3 linked regions of the Homo sapiens genome follow. The protein of the gene in region 2 interacts with the protein of the main gene of each other region in a pairwise test. Each region holds a gene or a part of one and is shown on either strand. Other genes may lie near its edges.

The links. Proteins that work in one complex are often made in the same cells at the same time.
Region 1: the proteins of AGR2 (region 2) and GTPBP3 interact in binary tests that used the Homo sapiens proteins (3 or more experiments, as listed by UniProt).
Region 3: the proteins of AGR2 (region 2) and POGZ interact in binary tests that used the Homo sapiens proteins (3 or more experiments, as listed by UniProt).

Annotation. Positions count from the first base shown.
Region 1 is NC_000019.10:17,333,188-17,340,575, forward strand, and holds the start of GTPBP3 (5-taurinomethyluridine-[tRNA] synthase subunit GTPB3, mitochondrial), read left to right. Parts: upstream 1-4,365; 5' UTR 4,366-4,424; coding exon 4,425-4,477; intron 4,478-4,820; coding exon 4,821-5,068; intron 5,069-5,177; coding exon 5,178-5,264; intron 5,265-5,351; coding exon 5,352-5,554; intron 5,555-5,766; coding exon 5,767-5,839; coding exon of another isoform or gene 5,840-5,935; coding exon 5,936-6,079; intron 6,080-6,246; coding exon 6,247-6,412; intron 6,413-7,388. Other genes in the region: ANO8 (anoctamin-8), read right to left, coding at 1-52, 235-367, 503-613, 1,378-1,483. UniProt on the Homo sapiens protein: GTPase component of the GTPBP3-MTO1 complex that catalyzes the 5-taurinomethyluridine (taum(5)U) modification at the 34th wobble position (U34) of mitochondrial tRNAs (mt-tRNAs), which plays a role in mt-tRNA decoding and mitochondrial translation.
Region 2 is NC_000007.14:16,791,283-16,795,004, forward strand, and holds the end of AGR2 (anterior gradient protein 2 homolog precursor), read right to left. Parts: coding exon 3,654-3,722; intron 1,676-3,653; coding exon 1,626-1,675; 3' UTR 529-1,625; downstream 1-528. UniProt on the Homo sapiens protein: Required for MUC2 post-transcriptional synthesis and secretion. May play a role in the production of mucus by intestinal cells. Proto-oncogene that may play a role in cell migration, cell differentiation and cell growth. Promotes cell adhesion.
Region 3 is NC_000001.11:151,407,472-151,414,504, forward strand, and holds part of POGZ (pogo transposable element with ZNF domain), read right to left. Parts: intron 4,926-7,033; coding exon 4,825-4,925; intron 4,301-4,824; coding exon 4,154-4,300; intron 1,358-4,153; coding exon 1,223-1,357; intron 1,111-1,222; coding exon 938-1,110; intron 770-937; coding exon 629-769; intron 1-628. UniProt on the Homo sapiens protein: Plays a role in mitotic cell cycle progression and is involved in kinetochore assembly and mitotic sister chromatid cohesion.

The DNA.
Region 1 (7,388 bases), on a different chromosome or scaffold from region 2:
CTCGGCCTTCACTGCTTTGCGCAGACCCAGCTCGTCGGCCCCTCGGAGTAGGCTGTGAAGAAGGCGGAGGAGGTGGGCTCACAGGGAGGCCCCGGCCCACCATCCTGGAGCTGAGGATGGTGCACCTGGCAGCCTTTGGGACAAACGCAGGGCGGCTGGATAGCATGGTTGGCACTTGGTAGAGCGGGGAGTCGGGTGGCAGGCTCAGCGAGAGGCCAGGGACAGGGGACTCGCCTCTCATACGTGGCGGTGACAAAGAAGGCGTAGGCACGCGTGTGGCGGTGGTGGCGGACTTGCACGATGAGCTCGGGAATGCCCACGCGGATGTGGTTCAGCAGCCATAGCAGCGTGTGGTCATCGGTCGTGTCTGCCAAGGGGCACAGGGACCGATGGCTCCTGCCACGAGGGGGCCCAAGGCCTCCTACGTATTCCCGTTCTGGGAAGCCGAGCTCAGGAGAGCCGCATCTGGGCACTGGGCGGGCGGGCGGGCGGGCTTGGGTACCTGGGAAGGTCATCAGCACGTCGCAGTTCTCTGTAGGCACCGTCTTCATCCACGCCTTGTGGGACACCAGGTAGCGACCAGCCTGCAGGAGCCGCTTTCCGAAAAGCTTATCTAGGGGGCGGCGTAGCAGGCCCGGGTCAGGCCACTCTGGGATCCGGACCCGGCCTCCAGTCTTGGCTCCTCCTGCCCCCGCCAGGGCTCCTCACCACTCCACCTGGCATTCAAGGCCCCGGGAGCTCTGGGCTTGGCTTATTTTCCTCCCTCCACGTCCTTGTACCAGCCAGGCCTTCCTCCAGAAATGCCCTTCCCCCCAGATCCTCCCTTACAAATCTTACTCATTCTTGAGGCCCAGCTCCGCCTCCAAAACCACAATCGATGGGGCGCTCACTAGCAGCCCTGAGCGCTTCACCACATTATGACAGCGCCGTCCTTGCAGCAGCCCCAGGGACTAGGTGCGGTTCTTACCCCCATTTCACAGGTGAGGAAACTGAGGCCCAGAGCGTTTAAGTCACGCGCCCAAGGTCACACAGTCAAGCTGGGATTTGAACCCAGGACCGTATGATTCTGTATTCTTCGCGGAGAGGCTCTCTCAAGCACATCCCTGGCCCGCCGCGATCCCGCAGCCCGGGGGTGGCAGGGCGCAGCCCAAGCCTGGGGCTCTCGGAGGGGCGTGTCCGCGTCTCCGCGCCGGGACCCCAGCCCGAAGCACCGTCCCAGCCCCGCCCGCCGGGCCGCAGCCGCAGTGCCGGGAGGAGCCGGCCCCTCGTCCAGACACCACGCCAGGTTACGTTTGACCCTGATCCTCCTCCCCGTGTAGTTGACGCGGGCTCCCCAGGCACCTGCAACCCTGTCTGGTCCAGCCGCCGCACACATACCCAGAACTCCGGACGCCGGGGCTGCAGGCTCGCCCTCCGGCGGGGGCCTCTTGCCACGCTCGCCCTCCAGGGACGTGCCCCCGGCGCCGGAGGCGGCCTCGGCCATGGCGAGGACAGGTCAGGTCAGGGGCTACGGACGGCCCGGGCGACGGGGAGCCGCGGGCTCATGGGGCCGGTGCAGCCGCGGAGCGCGCGGGAGGAGGAGACAAAGGCCGCGCCCGCCCGCGCCGGCCTCGGTCCTCGCTCGCCCGAGCGCTGCTTCTCGTCCCCGCCCGAGCCGAACCTCGATTCTCCTTCCCGGCCCGATGCACGTCACTCTAGGGTTCTCAGCTGAGTTCGCCCGCCTAGTTCTTTGGTTCGCGTCTCCGCCCGTGTTGTTTTCTGGGTTTCCTTCTCGCCCGCCTACCTCGCTCCCTGCTGCTGGTCCCCGCCCGCACTGATGGTGCATTCTCCAACTTGTCCCCACCCATGCTTTCTTCTGGTCCCCGCCTCGGAGCCTCAGTTTCCCCATCTGCAAACTCCGGACCCTGGAGACGCTGTTTGGAATGTGAGATGGGCGTAAGTTGACTAAGGGAGGACGTGGGAGGGGCGGGCCGGTTGGGGAAGATTCCTGGTGACAATAACTTCAACCACCCCAGTAGGGCTGTGATACATAATTACAGCAAGCCCTGCTTAGGAACTTTGCACGCACCATTTGGCTGCCTAGAACACTCCTCATGCACTCTTCGTCCGGTTAACACCGACTCCCTTCAGGATGTAACCTCGGAGAGGATCCCATAGAGTTGTCAAGTTTAGCAAATAAAAATACAGTCCGTCTAGTTAAATGTAAATTTCAGATAAAAGAATAAATGTTAGCTGGGCGGGGCGCACCTGTAATCCCAGCTACTTGGGAGGCTGAGGCAGGAGAATCGCTTGTGCTCAGGAGGTCAAGGCTGCAGTGAGCTGAGATCACACCCACTGCACTGCATCCTGGGCGACAGAACGAGACCCTGTCTCAAATACATATATATACATACATACATAAATGTTTCTATGTCCTATGTCTACATGGGACATACTAGTACTAAAAAATTATTCATTGTTTATTTGAAATTCACATTTAGCTGGGCGACCTGGGTTTTACCTGGCATTTGGCCAACCCCTGACTATTCTGAGTAGCTCAGTCTGTTAGACTGAAAGCCCAGCGAGGGTAGGAACGAGGGGCCAGGTCTGGTTCTCAATGCGAGCACACAGTAGGCGCTTGCTGTACGCTTGTTACAGATGTAACAACTAGCTTGTTACAGATGTAATAACTAGCTTGTTACAGATGTAACAACTAGAGAATGGCAGATGAAATATAAATATGTCATCATTTGTTCCTATTTTACAACTTAAAATATTAAAGCCTCGGCCGGGCGCAGTGGCTCACGCCTGTAATCCCAGCATTTTGGGAGGCCAAGGCGGGTAGATCACCTGAGGCAAGGAGTTCGAGACCAGCCTGACCAACATGGCCAAACCCTGTCTCTATTAAAAATACAAAAAATTAGCCAGGCATGGTGGCGCACGCCTGTAGTCCCAGCTACTTGGGAGTCTGAGGCAGGAGAATCGCTTGAACCTGGGAGGCGGAGGTTGCAGTGAGTCTAGATCGCGCCACTGAACTCCAGCCTGGGCGACAGAGCGAGACCCCGTCTCAAAAAAAAAAAAAAAAAAAAAAAAAAGCTTGGGCAACGTAGTGAGATCCCCGTCTCCACCAAAAAAACGAAAACAAAACAAACAAACAAAAACAACAAACAAAAAGAAACACCGAAAAGTTAGACTGGCATGGTGGCTCGCGCCTGTGGTTCCAGCTACTCAGGAGGCTGAGGCGGGCGGATCCCTTGAGCCCAAAAGTTGGAGGTTGCAAGAGCCGTGATCGCGCCACTGCACTCCAGCCTGGGCGACAGAGTGAGACCCTGTCTCAAAAATAAAATAAAATAAAATAATAAAGTAAATAAAAATATTGAGCAGGGCGAGGTAAGGGGGTATTAGAACTCTATTCTGTCAGACAGATTTTTCTTAACACGCAAGTGCGCCGCCCGCCCGCTCTGATCCAGAACCAGAGAATCCGCCATGCGAAGGCGCTCCCGGAGACCCCGCCCAGCCAGTGCCTGGAATTCCACCATCAGCGCTTTATTCCGAGTTTCAGTGCTGTCCTGGGTTAACCTGAAAGCAATCTCCGAGGCTCCCCTTTCTGGCTTTCGGGGAGCCAGAGACTGACCGGACACTTGGCTCTGCAGGTGCAGACCTGGACCAGAGAGACAGAGAGCCAAGGAAGTCCACAGTGGAGAGAGGGCTGTGCTGGGGGTTCCAGGAAGACTTCCTGGAGGAGGGGATCTTGGAGCTAGGCCTTGAAGACGAGTTTGTCAAATGAGGAAGGGCATCCGAAGCCGAGGGAACGGCAGAAGGGAACGCTGGGGAGGGGAGAGAATCTGGAGAGTTCCGGAAAAAGCAAGTAGGACTCTTTCCAGAAGTTCGGGCAAGATTTTCCCTGGATCAGGGCGTGGGTTCTCCAGTACTCGTCCCTCCCGGTCACCGAGATGCTCTGAGTTTCCGGTCTGAACCTGAACGTAAAGAGGTGTAGTCCCTCCTTTCTTGAACGGGAAAACTGAACGCACATAGGTCCTTGCCACGCCTAAGGCTGCGGAGTGAGCAGATGGAAAATGCGGGACTCAAAACCTCCCCTCGCTGTAATTTGCACTGCCCTGTGCCAAACTCTGTCCTTTCTTCCATTCCTTATTCCTATTGTCAGCCTCGCTGCGCTAGGACCCTAAAAATTTGGTCTCATGTTGCCCGGGGAACAACATTTCGCTACACCTACCTCCATACCGCCTCCCGCTCCCGCTCTCCCTTGCACCAGCCAATGGAAGCGAGTATCTTCAGACGGTGGGCAGGACGTATCCTAAGATACCCAATGGTGGTCGAGAATAGTTGAGCACTTTACTAGTCAAGCCGCGGAGTGGGCGGGGCCCCCTGCCCAGACTTGAAGCCACACAGGCAGGTCGGGCAGGCGGGTCGCAGGTTGTAAATCCATGTGGCGGGGGCTTTGGACCCTGGCGGCCCAAGCGGCACGTGGGCCTCGCAGGTGGGGCTACAGGGGAAGGGGTGCGACAGCTTGGGGTGCTGCTTGGACCCCAGACCCACTCCCTGGGTTTTAGGGGCCCAATTCCCTGCGGCAGAGCAATCATTCGCGTTCTTCCGTGCCTCAATCGTTCATGACCCTTGCGGCAGAGCCCATATCTGGGTCTCCTTCTGGCCTCACAGTCCCTAATCCGGTCACCCTTCGGCCTTCAGAACATCCAATTTGTGCATCCCCCAGCCGCAGAACCCCCCCACCTGGAGCATCTCGCGATCATCGAGCCCTCGGTCTACTTGACACTGAGGCTGAGCCTCCCAGGTGCGCTGATTCGCCTCCCCTCCGGTTCCAGATTGTGCACGCGCCGGAGCAGCGGCGCACCAGCCCCCGGCTCCGGCGCCACCATCTTCGCGCTAAGCTCTGGCCAAGGCCGCTGCGGCATCGCAGTGATCCGGACCAGCGGCCCCGCCAGCGGCCACGCCCTCCGAATTCTCACAGCACCCCGAGACCTGCCCCTTGCTCGCCACGCCAGCCTGCGCCTGCTCAGCGATCCCCGCTCCGGGGAGCCTCTGGACCGCGCACTGGTGCTCTGGTTCCCAGGTGAGGGTCCCCAGGTTCCGAGCCTCCTGTAGGTCCCATGACTCAGTTTCCCCCTTCCAAGGGTTTGCACTGGCTGTGCTGTCCTCCTGTCACCTGTCTGTCACATTAGGTCCCCAGAGTTTCACCGGTGAGGACTGCGTGGAGTTCCACGTGCATGGAGGCCCGGCAGTGGTGAGCGGCGTCCTGCAGGCCTTGGGTGAGTTGCAGCGTTGGGTGAGATGCTTGGTCCTCCCAATGGGCCTGGGTGGGGACCAGGGGGTGTCAGACTGGGACCTTCCTGCAGGCAGCGTGCCAGGGCTTCGACCGGCGGAGGCAGGCGAGTTCACCAGACGGGCGTTCGCCAATGGGAAGCTGAACCTGACCGAAGTGGAGGGGCTGGCGGACCTTATCCACGCGGAAACAGAGGCGCAGCGGCGGCAGGCCCTCAGGCAGCTGGACGGAGAGCTGGGCCACCTCTGCCGTGGCTGGGCCGAGACCCTCACCAAAGCAAGTCCCCCATTTGTCCATTCTCTCCCTCAGAGACCCCATCTGTGCAACCCCTGCATGAGACCCCCTCTCAATCCCGCATTCATTCCCTGCGTGAAAGCTTCCGGCCTATGAGCCGCCATTCTGGCCCCTGAAGTCGGGCTGGACAAATTGGGTGTGGGAAGGTGGGTTTCTGGGTGCACACACCACCTCTGCTCTCCCTGCCCCGCCAGGCTCTGGCCCACGTGGAGGCCTATATCGATTTCGGCGAGGATGACAACCTGGAGGAGGGGGTCCTGGAGCAAGGTGGGTCTACCTGGTGGTGGGGGAGGAAGACACCTCATATCAGCCCTCAAAGGCTCCCCTCACTGTCTCTCTCTGCCTGCCTTCTCTCACCCACAGCCGACATCGAAGTACGGGCACTGCAGGTGGCCCTGGGTGCACATCTACGAGATGCCAGGCGCGGGCAGAGGCTCCGCTCAGGGGTGCACGTAGTGGTCACTGGACCCCCCAATGCGGGCAAGAGCAGCCTAGTGAACCTGCTCAGTGAGTAGGCGGCGGGAAGGGGGCGGGGCCTAGTGCCAGGGGCGGGGCCAAGAGCTGGGTTATTGAGTTAGTTGTTCAGGTCTAAAGCTCCCTCCAGACATGGGGTAGAACCTGGGGGAGGAGCTCCCTTGTCTCCACCCTCTCCTCTTCTTCTGACCCTCCCCCAGGTCGGAAGCCTGTGTCCATCGTGTCCCCGGAGCCAGGGACCACCCGTGACGTGCTGGAGACCCCAGTCGACCTGGCCGGATTTCCTGTGCTGCTGAGCGACACGGCTGGGTTGCGGGAGGGCGTGGGGCCCGTGGAGCAGGAGGGCGTGCGGCGCGCCCGGGAGAGGTGGGCGGACAGGGTGGTGATGGGAGGGGAACGCGGGGCCCTTTCTCTGCCTTTTCTCCCTGTTGCGTTTATTTTTCATTCTTCCTGAATCAGAGAACCTGCTAAGCCCTATCAAGCATGGATCTCAGGGATTTGGTTCTTTTTTTTTTTTTTTTTTTTTACTCCGAGACCGAGTCTTGCTCTGTCGCCCAGGCTGGAGTGCAGTGGCGGTATCTCAGCTCACTGCAAGCTCTGTCTTCCGGGTTCAAGCAAGTCTCCTGCCTCAGCCTCCCAAGTAGCTGGGATTACAGGCGGGAGCGACCACGCCGAACTATTTTTTTTTTTTTTTTGTATTTTTAGTAGAGATGAGGTTTCACTATGTTGGCCAGGTTGGTCTCTAACTCCTGAGCCTCGGCCTCCCAAAGTGTTGTGAGCCCACCGCACCTGGCCTGGTGTTTTGTTTTTGTTTTTGAGACGGAGTTTCGCTCTTGTTGCCCAGGCTGGAGTGTGCAGTGGTACAATCTCGGCTCACTGCAACCTCCGCCTCTCGGGTTCAAGTGATTCTTCTGCCTGGGCCTCCCGAGTAGCTGGGATTAGAGGCGCCCACCACAATGCCAGGCTAATTTTTTGTATTTTTAGTAGAGATGGGGGTTTCACCATGTTGGCCAGGCTGGTCTCGAACTCCTGATCTCAGGTGACCCGCCTGCCTCGGCCTCCCAAAGTGCTGGGATTACAGGCGTTAGCCACTGTGCCCGGCCAGTGATTTAGTTCTGATTAAGTCCTGCCCCCGGCCCTCCGGACATGTTTCTCATCCCTAAGCCCTCCGCCCAGCCCTCACGTTCTGCCCCGCCCTCTCGTGCTCTGTCCCGCCCTGGCACTCCGCTCTGCCCCTTGCGGTCTATCCCATCCCCTGTGCTCTGTCCACCCCCTACATTCTGCCCCACCCCTGGTGCTCTCTACCCCTTACCCTGTGGTGTGTCTGGTCCTTCTTGCTCTG
Region 2 (3,722 bases):
GGTGGAGGAGACTGATGGGACAAAGTCAATTAATGACTCATGCTTTGTGTTTCTTCAATGCTTTTAAAAGGGGGACTTATTTTCCTTACAGCTGTAACATTTGATTTCCTAAATATTTATTTATATTTAAAAAGTATTTGTATGTGTTAAGATATTTTGCCATTCAATACATTTTAAGAAGTTAACCTTATTTCACGTCCGCCCAATGAAAAAATATTTTGCTATACTATAGGAGAAACTTGAATCACTTAGAACTTGTCATTTAAAATATTTGTTTATGGAAGGGAAACCTCTTTTTCCTCTTGTTATCCCTCAGAGATCTTTTTAAATGGAATGTTTTACCTTTTTCAGCACATGTAAGTTATCTACTTGTGAGAAGGGAGCTGATTAACCTGTGATATTTTTGCTGAAGATTTGTATGTCATTAAATCAGCAGTATATGCTCAACACCTACTAATGATAGTAGTCACTAGGAGAGATAGAAAAGATTGAAAATATATCCCTGGAAAAATTAATAATGCCAAAAGATCTGTTCAAAAAAGGTTTTATCCAAAAAAGTTAATCAAGACAAGCAACAGATACTGCAAAGCATTATATACAGCACCATAGTCCAGGGGCCAAAGAAATCAGGAGGGGCTGGGCAGTAGAGGAATTCCATATATTAATGAATGTGAGATTAAGTATAGAGTGAAGACATTAACACACAATTCTAATTTCTGTTAGGCAGAATGCTCCCCTACCCTGATGCCACAGCCTTTCACGTTTCCTAAACCCTAGTAACCTCTGATCTCCATCTGCCTCATCAACACGTCACCACCCTTTGCTCTTCTTCCAATTAGTCACATGTTGGCTGAATTTATTTCACTCCAGTACTTTAGGACCTTGACAGACAAATCGATTACAAGGTCAATTCCCAGGATTTCTTCAGGGTGTGTTCAGGAGTGCAGATGTTCTTTGGATGACCTTTCTACTAAATTAGACCTCTGAAGGAGAAAGCTACTTGCCAGAGGCTTTCCCTGAGAGCATTAGGTTGGGCAAAATCTGACTAAAATTTAATTACTAAATGAAAGTGTGTACCTTAGAGTTCCTGGCCAGAGTTGACTCTAGGTAGTGATGTGATTTTCTTGGGATGTTTTTCTAAATATTCTTTTATGCTAAAGCACATGGCTTGATACTTCTGTTGATTAAGCTCGTGTCTACTTACAGTCATCTAGTGAGAACCTGTGGTGTGGTGAGATGATAACTTGGTCTTTGGTCTTCATCATTTGAACTAGTTTTGGTTTTGTCTTGTCCCTTCCTTGAGCATTTTGTGTGTGTTTAATCCTATTTGGTAAACGAACCACTGTGAAAGACCAAGTTGGAGAAAACAGAACACCCCCAAAACATTTATTTTTTTTTTTAGAAAATCATGGCTCACTATGGTAGTATACAATATTGTTTTCACACATGTACACTTGAAACCAAATTTCTAAAACTTGTTTTTCTTAAAAAATAGTTGTTGTAACATTAAACCATAACCTAATCAGTGTGTTCACTATGCTTCCACACTAGCCAGTCTTCTCACACTTCTTCTGGTTTCAAGTCTCAAGGCCTGACAGACAGAAGGGCTTGGAGATTTTTTTTCTTTACAATTCAGTCTTCAGCAACTTGAGAGCTTTCTTCATGTTGTCAAGCACTAATGGGGGATAAAAGCAGGAGAGTCAAGACACCATCGTGCGTTATATCGATATAATAAACCCCAAACTTGGATGCTCAATTCATTATTTAATGGGATGCTTTTTTTTTTGAGACAAGGTCTCACTCCCACTCAGGCTGGCATGCAGTGGTGCAATCTCCACTCAGTGCAACCTCTGCCTCCTGGGTTCAAGTGATTCTTCAGCCTTAGCCTCCTGAGTAGCTGGGATTAGAGGTGTGCTCCACCATGCCCAGCTAATTTTTGTATTTTTGGGAGAGATGGGGTTTTGGTATGCTGGCCAGGCTGGTCTCGAACTCCTGAGCTCAAGTGATCCACACACCTCGGCCTCCCAAAGTGCTGGGATTACAGGCGTGAGCCACTGTGCCCAGCCTGATAGGATGCTTTTTATCATGAGGTGAATAGTTGGTAATCTTATTGTAATTTAAAAAAATTATATGAAATGGCTTTTGTGACAATCTAGTTTTCTAGTGTAGTCATTCCTTCCCAGATCCTTCATCTCCAACCCTCACTTCCAAAAGAATCCTTTTATAAGCTCTAGCAGCAGAAGATAATTTTGGCTCATTTAGAAGTAAATTTAAATCATGTTTAAAAGAAATGTCTATTAGTAGGTGTGTGTAAATTGTTTTAGAAGTAGGGGAAATATAAATAATAGCAAACCAAGTGCTTTATGCAGATGAATTCTTTAATCCTCATACAAACACGATTAGAACTTTATATATACATAATGAAACAGGCAGAGAGAGGCTGAGTAGCTTGCTCAAGGTCACACAGCTAACAAGTAATGGAGCTACTGTTCCAGAGCCCAAACTCTGGGTCACTGTTTCTTCAACAGCAATTCATCAAAATGAGGTATGTGATCTACTAAAAATAAGATGTCCACTCGATAGGCATTGAACAGCCGCTTATTCACTCTTCCTACAAATCTTAATTATTAAGTGCCTGTTCTACAAGGGATTGTGATATTACTTGTGTAGGACACGTGCCTTTTAAGAGCTTAGTCTTATTAAAATGTATGGTATTATCTCAGTAATGGCTGACAGTACTTGGAATGTGCTTCCCCTGGTCCAGCACACACTGGAAACATTGCTAATGGACCATGATGATCTCTCCTGCTTCCTAGACACGGCCTCACTTCTCTTCCCAACATGACGTTCTAAGTCAGCACTGGCCAATAGAAATTTCTGTGATGATGGAAATGTTCAGTGTCCGGGCATTGAGCACTTGGAATATGGCTAGTGTGACTGAAGGAATGAATTTCTAACTTTAACTTAAGTAGCAACATGTGGCAAATGGTTAACATATTGGACAGTGCAGTTCTAGGCAGCCACTACTAATTGATCAGAGTTGGTTCCTAGGATAAAACCCACTTTTCTTCCCAGAGGACTAATCAGATGTCACAGCTAGCTACAGCGTTGCATTGAGGTACCTCATCTGCCTTAAGTCAGTGTCTCTCTCTCTCTCTGTCTCTCTTCCATTGATGGCAACCATAGGGAAGGTAATTTTCTTGGCAATCATTTGGATCATCTTTGAAACTGATCTTTAAACTGAACCTGAATTTAATTTTAAGCTGGACTGCACATTCTTTCACTTTTGTTATTTAAAAAATTAAGACATGCAGATTATTACAATTATTACACTCAGTTCTGTGATAGAAGGAGTGTGTGCTCGTGTACCTAACAGAAAACCTGAAAATCAGGTAATGTGGTCATAGAATCCTCCTAGAGAAAAAGATACCTAATCTAAATAATTCATCTTCAATTGAGATTAAAAACAAACAAACCTGAGATGGAAAGAGTGTGATTTGCCTGAAGATGCAAGGCTAGTTAGGGTCAAACTGAGTCCGAGGCGTCCCTAAGCCTAGCTCTCTCTCACCTCACCATGCAGCCTCTAGTCCCATCACTACAGCAATAGAGGTGTTCAACTCTTGGGCAACATCCGAATTGAAGGTCACACTTACACAGAGCTGTATCTGCAGGTTCGTAAGCATAGAGACGATTTGAATATCTTCCAGTGATATCGGCTCTAA
Region 3 (7,033 bases), on a different chromosome or scaffold from region 2:
ATCTATTAAAATTCACATTCTGGTTCAGTAGGCCTAGGGCGGGGCTGAGAGTCAGCATTTCTAACAAGCTCCCACCTAATACTACTGGTACTTGAATAGCAAGGCCCTATGAAATTAGAGCACAGACCATCAAAACCGAAAAAACAGAGCCTCTCACTCTGCTAGGAGAGAAGAACAAATAGCTCTAAGAGTTGAAGGAGGAAACATATTAGAAGCAGGGGAGAAAATGAAATGAGTGCTCAAGAATCTGGCTGGGGCCGGGCGCAGTGGCTCATGTCTGTAATCCCAGCACTTTAGGGAGGCCGAGGCAGGTGGATCACCTGAGCTCAGGAGTTTGAGACCAGCCTGGCCAACAAGGTGAAACCCCGTCTCTACTAAAAATACAAAAAAATCAGCCAGGCATGGTGGTGCACACCTATAATCCCAGCTACTTGGGAGGCTGAGACAGGAGAATCACTTGAACCCAGGAGGCAGAGGTTGCAGTGAGCCAAGATCATGCTATTGCACTCCAGCCTAGGGGACAGAGTGAGACCCTGTCTTCAAAAAAAAAAAAAAAAAAAGAAGAAGAAGAAGAAGAAAAAAAGAATCTGAACTCTCAAGCTAAAACACTGGTTAAAAACCAACTTACTTGATCATGTGGTTGGCATAAGCTCGAGAACAGCAGGTGCTATAGCGACACAGAGAGCAGTGTACGTAAGTAGGGAAATGATTAGGGAAGTCTGGGATCTCGAAGCTGCACTCCAGGCATGTCTGCCGGCCCATGACACTCCTGTGGGGGAAAAAAAAAAAGAATTCTCATTACTGCCTCATGGGTCCCCAAAATGTAGGATTTTCAGACAACAAACCCTGCTAAAAAGCTACCAGATTGCACTGTGTATCAGGAATAATCCTGGCCACCCAGTCCCCACCCGCCCAGCACTTAGAAGAAGGCGCTGACATTTTCCTAACAGCTCTCTTCTGGATGCTGCGCTGGACAGGGGGATAAAGGAAGACAGGCAGAGGGTCCATTGAGGAGGTCAGCGGTGCTGCCTCCTGCAAGGCGCTGGGAGGTGTATCATTAGAGGATACAGGAACAGTTCGTGGCTGCCCTCGGGAAGCCCGGATTGTCACCTGAGAACCAAGGGAAGTAACAATGAGACATCACCCACACTAAATTTCAGAATACTGAAAATCTCTATTCCTCCCTCCCTGGGCCTATAAAAGACACTGGCAAACTCTTTACCTTGGTGCCTGGTTTCAAGCCCTCCAGCTGCTTGGGTTTACGGAAGGTTTTATGGTGTTGAAGCTTGTGTTCAATTTTGTCCTTGGCAAAGAGAAACTGCAGCCGGCATTTGTTGCAGTGATAAACATTTCTCTTCTGAAGTGGGGGAGGGAAAAAAAGAGACAAAATCCCTTAAAGGTTCCTAATAAATTTTCTTTTTTGAGGAGAAAGCAGATCAATGTCAACCATATCATTCTTCCCACCTTTCTGTTGATAATTTAAGAGAGTAAGAAAGAAATATGCAACATGACCACAAAACCTACCATTGAGAATCATCACCTCCCATGATATCAAAGAAAGATGGATTCTAGTCCAGGATGACTAAGTTCTCAAATCATCCTTTCCTGACTTGTTTTAACAATTTGAATGAGTGATGTAACCTTTATTTGTATTATATCTTTACACTGCTGACAACTGGACATTCTTCTGGACATTCTTCATTCTTCTTTTTTTAAAAAAGGACAATGTACATAGTAAACTAAAGTCATACTTTTTTTTCTATACTCTTCCAACTTTGCTTTCAACTCCAACACTCAGTCCCCTTCCATACAAACAACTTATTACCAGTTTCCTGAGTATGCTTTCGTGGGCAGTCTACACATATAACTGTATCACAAATACATTCATATCCAATCATTACCTGCCTCGCCCCCTTTTTTTGAGACAGGGTCTCTCTCTGTAGCCCAGGCTGGAGTGCAGTGGCATGTTCATAGCTCACTGCACGTCCCAAGTAGCTGGGACTACAGGCACGTGCCACCACGCCCGGCTACTTTTTGTATTTTTTTGTAGAGACGGGGTGTCACCATGTTGCCCAGGCTGGTCTTCAACTCCTGGGTTCAAGTGATCTACCTGCCTTGGCCTCCCAAAGTGTTGGGATTACAGGCGTGCATCACTGTGCCTGGCCCTTACTTTTTTCCCTTTCCTTTTTGTAGAGATGTTGTCTCACCATGTTGCCCAGGCTGGACTCCACCTCCTGGGCTCAAGTGATCCTCCCACCTCAGCCCTCTTCTTTTTCTCCTTTTAACACAAATGATAGCACTTGTCTATACCTTGCTGTTTTCTCACTTAACACATCAGTATATACAGATATGTCTCCTGGTGAGACCACTTTGAGGATTCAGTCTGCCTAGTATTGAAGTCCTTCAAAAATAGAACCCATGTCTATGATTTTCTTTAGTAGGATAACAAAGCTCTGTAAGCTTAGGCTAAGAGACAATTTCCATGCCCCTATTTGGAAATACAGTTGTGGTAGACAATCAGCAGTCACTACTGTGCAAAGGAGACTATGAGTGTAATAGGGTACATATGTTTGTGTGCATATGTATGTGACTATTAAGCACACATGCACTCATCTTATTCTCCATTTTGAATCCTCTCTTATATACTATATACCTTTCACTCTCCTCTAGTGGCTCTCTTCTTGTAGTATTTTAAAACGAAGTCATAGCTTTTCATCTTATAAGGAAAATAAAAGCAATAAAAAACTCTTCTTTGCCACTTCTTCCTCTGGATTTACCTACCCTGGGTCCTCCCTTTTTATAAATAAACTTCTTTAAATACATCGTCTTCATTTCCTTACCTCTCATTCATTTGTTCTGCTGAAATGTGACTTCCACCCTACCAACCAACAAAATGGCTCTCATCAATGTTGCTAAATTAAAGGCCTGTTTCTAAGTCTCTATGTTGCTTGACACCTTCCTGTAACATATGACATTTTGATCACACCCTTTTCTTTAAAACACTTTCTTCTCCCCAGTTTCCTTAAGGTTAAGACTCTTCTGGTTTTCCTCCTAGTACTATGGTGGTTGCTTTATAGATAAGGGACTTCAAATATCCTAAGCCTTCTCTTATTCTCAACAGGGTTGGGGGGCCCATGGTATTTAAGTTTAAAATCTATAGGATTTATATAACGCTGATTCCTAAATCTTTTCTACAACCCAGAGTTCTCTCACAGGCTTGAGATCTATTATCCAACAGCTACACTTGACATCCACAGATACTGCTAACTTACAATATCCAAGCTCATGATCTCCCCCCTCACAAATATACTTTCTCTATTGTTTCTATTTCAGCAAATAGTTCCCTCATTCACCCAACTGCCCAAGACAGAATCTTAGGCACTATTCTTAACTACTGCATTGCTACCTTCACCTAATCCATCTCTACATCATAAATATCACAAATCTTCTGAATATCTCTCAACTCTACCCTCTTTTTATTTCAAAAGCCAATAGCCACTATCATCTCTCACCTAAACTACTGAAAAAGGCCTTCTAGCTAGTTTCCCTAACTGTAGTCTCAATCTCCTTTAATCCATTCTCTGCAGTGCAGGCAGTATAAAGCCTTAACTAAAGCTGAACACATCACTCCAGGGCTTAAAACCCCTTTAGTGGCTTCCCAGTGAATTCTTTTCATGGCTTAAAAGATCCTCCATGATCTGTCCCTGCCTAACTTCCAACCCCTCTGTCTCTTACACCCTACACTGAATCTCTCTCAATTTCTTGAACCTCCACAATTTTGCTTTGTGCCTTGGGCACACTGTTCTTCGTCTTATTTCATCTGGCTCATTCTTATTCATCCCTCAGGTATTGAACAACACTTCTTTCTGGAAGCCTTACTAGGCACCCAGAATAGCTATGTGATTTTCTATATCCTATAATTTCCCCAACACAGTACTCTTCATGTTTTATTGTATTGTTTGCCTTGTTTACTACTAAATCTCTAGCATCTAGACTAGTACATGGCACATTAAGTGAATTCAATAAATTTCTGCAAACATATGCATATTATAATCTCTGCCCAAATTATTTGCCTAGCTCAGCCCTGGCCCCAGCATCCATGTTTAAAAAAAAAAAAAACAAGAGAATATGGGAATTGCTTGGTGCCTAGTACCTGGTGCCTCATGTAATGCTGTTGGAATGCATTGCCATTTTTGAAGACCTTCAGGCAATAAGGGCAGAGCAGATGCCGGGTATCCTCATGGATCATCCGAAAATGGACATCTACCTCAGAGTAGAGTGAGGAGCGATATTGACACACCTGAGTCACATAGGAGGGAAAATAAGGCTAAGAATGAAGTGAACAACTGAGAGGCCTTAAAAAAAAAGGTAGCAACAAAAATTTTTAAATTAAAAAAAAAAAGTTTTCTCAAATGCATAGAAATCAAATTATTTTCCTGACTTTGTAATGCTGGGCTATGTTTGTGATAGGTTTAGCTATTACTTTAAAAATAGGAAGGGACAGAAAGTCTAAGAATAATCCATGTTCTCTAACTAAGAAAAATAAAGCCTTTTCTGTCAATTTCCAAAGGGCACGTTCAGGAGACAGACACTCCCTTAGAATATGCACATGTTCCCGGCTAGTCTACTTGTGGACATGTTCTTTTATGTTTTTCTCCTGCATGGAAACCCTGAAGATAAACTGTGTTTACTATTTCTTCTGTACCTACTCAGAGTTCCTAAACTGAGTGTATGCAGTAGGTGGTCAACAATATTCATTAGTAAATTCTTTGTATTCTTCCTGAGGGCAAAACTGCTAAAACTCCCTGGAGAAAAAGGCAATACCTGGCAAACATAAGGCATCTCTCCAGGCTTATGAGTATCCTTCATATGCTGGAGAAATAGTGGCTCACTTTCAAACGCCCATTCACAGATCTTGCACTTGGCTGTAAGAAGAAAAGTAATCAATAAATCCACTTGAAAATAAGACAAAAGTCCTGCTGACTCACAATCTTTATTTTCTCTGCCTCCTTTATTTTGATTTTCAACAATCAGTAAATCATAGGTCCCTTCTGTTCTTTCTTTAAATGGCTCCACCTTAACATATATGTTGCTGATAATCTTATGTACGTAGCTCAGACTTCTTACCAAAGCTTCATTCTAGATTTTATCTATAAGACATTTTAAATTGGTTATTCTATCGTCAACTCTAACCTAATTCAGCATCCTCCTGTCTTACCACTGTTTCCCTTTTTCCTTTCCCCATTTCTTCCTGAGCTCAAAATTTAGGCACTATCTCGGATTCCAAACCCTGCATTCTGTCACCATTATTTCAAACTGCATGTAGGAACTGTCACTTCTCTATACTTATAATAAGGCAAAAACTTGGTACTAGCCCATATGATTTCCCACTGCTAATCAGCTGGCCTCCAATACCTCCTACTCTCTTTGAAATTGTCCATTTTGTCAAGCTTATGAGAAAAAATTTTGACAAAATTTTATGACACAAATGAACAATTTTGTCAAACTTCTGAGACAATTTTTGGTAATTTCATGTTGGCCAGGTTGGTCTCGAACTCCTGACCTCAGGTGATCTACCTGTCCCAGCCTCCCAAAGTGCTGGGATTATAGGTGTGAGCCACCGTGCCTGGGCTTTTTTTTTTTTTTTTTTTTTTAAGAGACAGAATCTCACTGTTGCTCAGGCTGGAGCATGATCATAGCTCACCGCAGCCTCCTGAGTAGCTAGGACTATCCTTTGAGCTCAAGCGAGCCTCCTGTTTCAGCCTCCCAAGTAGCTAGGACTACAGTGGTGCACCACCATGCCCAAGTAATTAAAAAAAATTTTTTTTTGTAGGGACAGGGTCTCGCCATGTTGCCCAGGCTGGTCGGAAACTCCTGGCCTCAAGCAATCCTTTTGTCAATCCACTTCAGTCTCCCAAAGTGCTAGAATTACAGGTGTGAGCCAGTGCACCGGCCAATTTTGGTAAGACTTTTAACTGCTACATATTTTTAATTATACAGTATGGCAAAAAGAGAGAGATTATTTACATTTTTGTCACTTTAATGGAATTAGTTTCAAGTTTTTGCAAATATGAAAACTGGAAGCTTAAAGCCTTGGGCATTTACTGGACAATGTCTAACCTCCCCCCGCCCCCAGCCCCCTACACCCCAGCCAAAGAAATATGAATAAAGTTGAAATAATTCTTTTTTCTTTTTTTAACTACCGAGAACCCTGGATTTTTGTTTTGAGACAGAGTCTCGTTCTGTCTCGCACGCTAGAGCGCAGTGGCTCAATCATGGCTCACTGCAACCCTGACCTCCCAAGCTCAAGCAATCCTCCCATCTCAGCCTCCCAAAGTACCAGAATTACAGGTATGAGCCACTGTGCCTAGCCAAGTAATTTTTTAAAGTAAAACAAACAAACAAAAGCCAGGGGTTCTTAATCTGGGGTCTATGGAACAGGCCTCTAGGAATCCAGGCTTTCTCTGAAATTATTTGCAAAAGAGTAAAATGTAGATTTTTCTAGGAAGAGGATTCAAACATTTCATATTTATTCTCAAAGAGGTCTGCAACTCCATTTAGAAACACTGTCTACAGGTACATTAGGTGCTATGAGGACATGGATAAATAAGAAATTCTGCATAAAGGAATGAGGAAAAGCTATAACAACATATAAAAGCTGAATTGTCAAAGAATGGGGCTCAGCCAGCCAGAGAGAGGACCAAGAGAAAAGCAGGAGGAAAGGCAAGTAGGTATGAAAGTTAACCACATGTTTGGGAAACAGTTAACTAGCAACATAACGATATTATCTCTTTTCCACTCACCCCCCGATTTGTTTACCTCTCTCATTTTTCTCTTCTAGAACACCTTTAAGCAATATTTTGTCCAGGCCTTTCTTAGTCTATGTTTTCCCTGGGCAATCTCATTCACTCTTTCTCCTATAACCTATTTATCAGCTCTATTTTCACAGCTGTCATGCAACATCAATAATAAAAACACTTATTAAGCAATTTCTAATGTACAAGCATCAGGTTAAGATTTACATGTGTTGGCT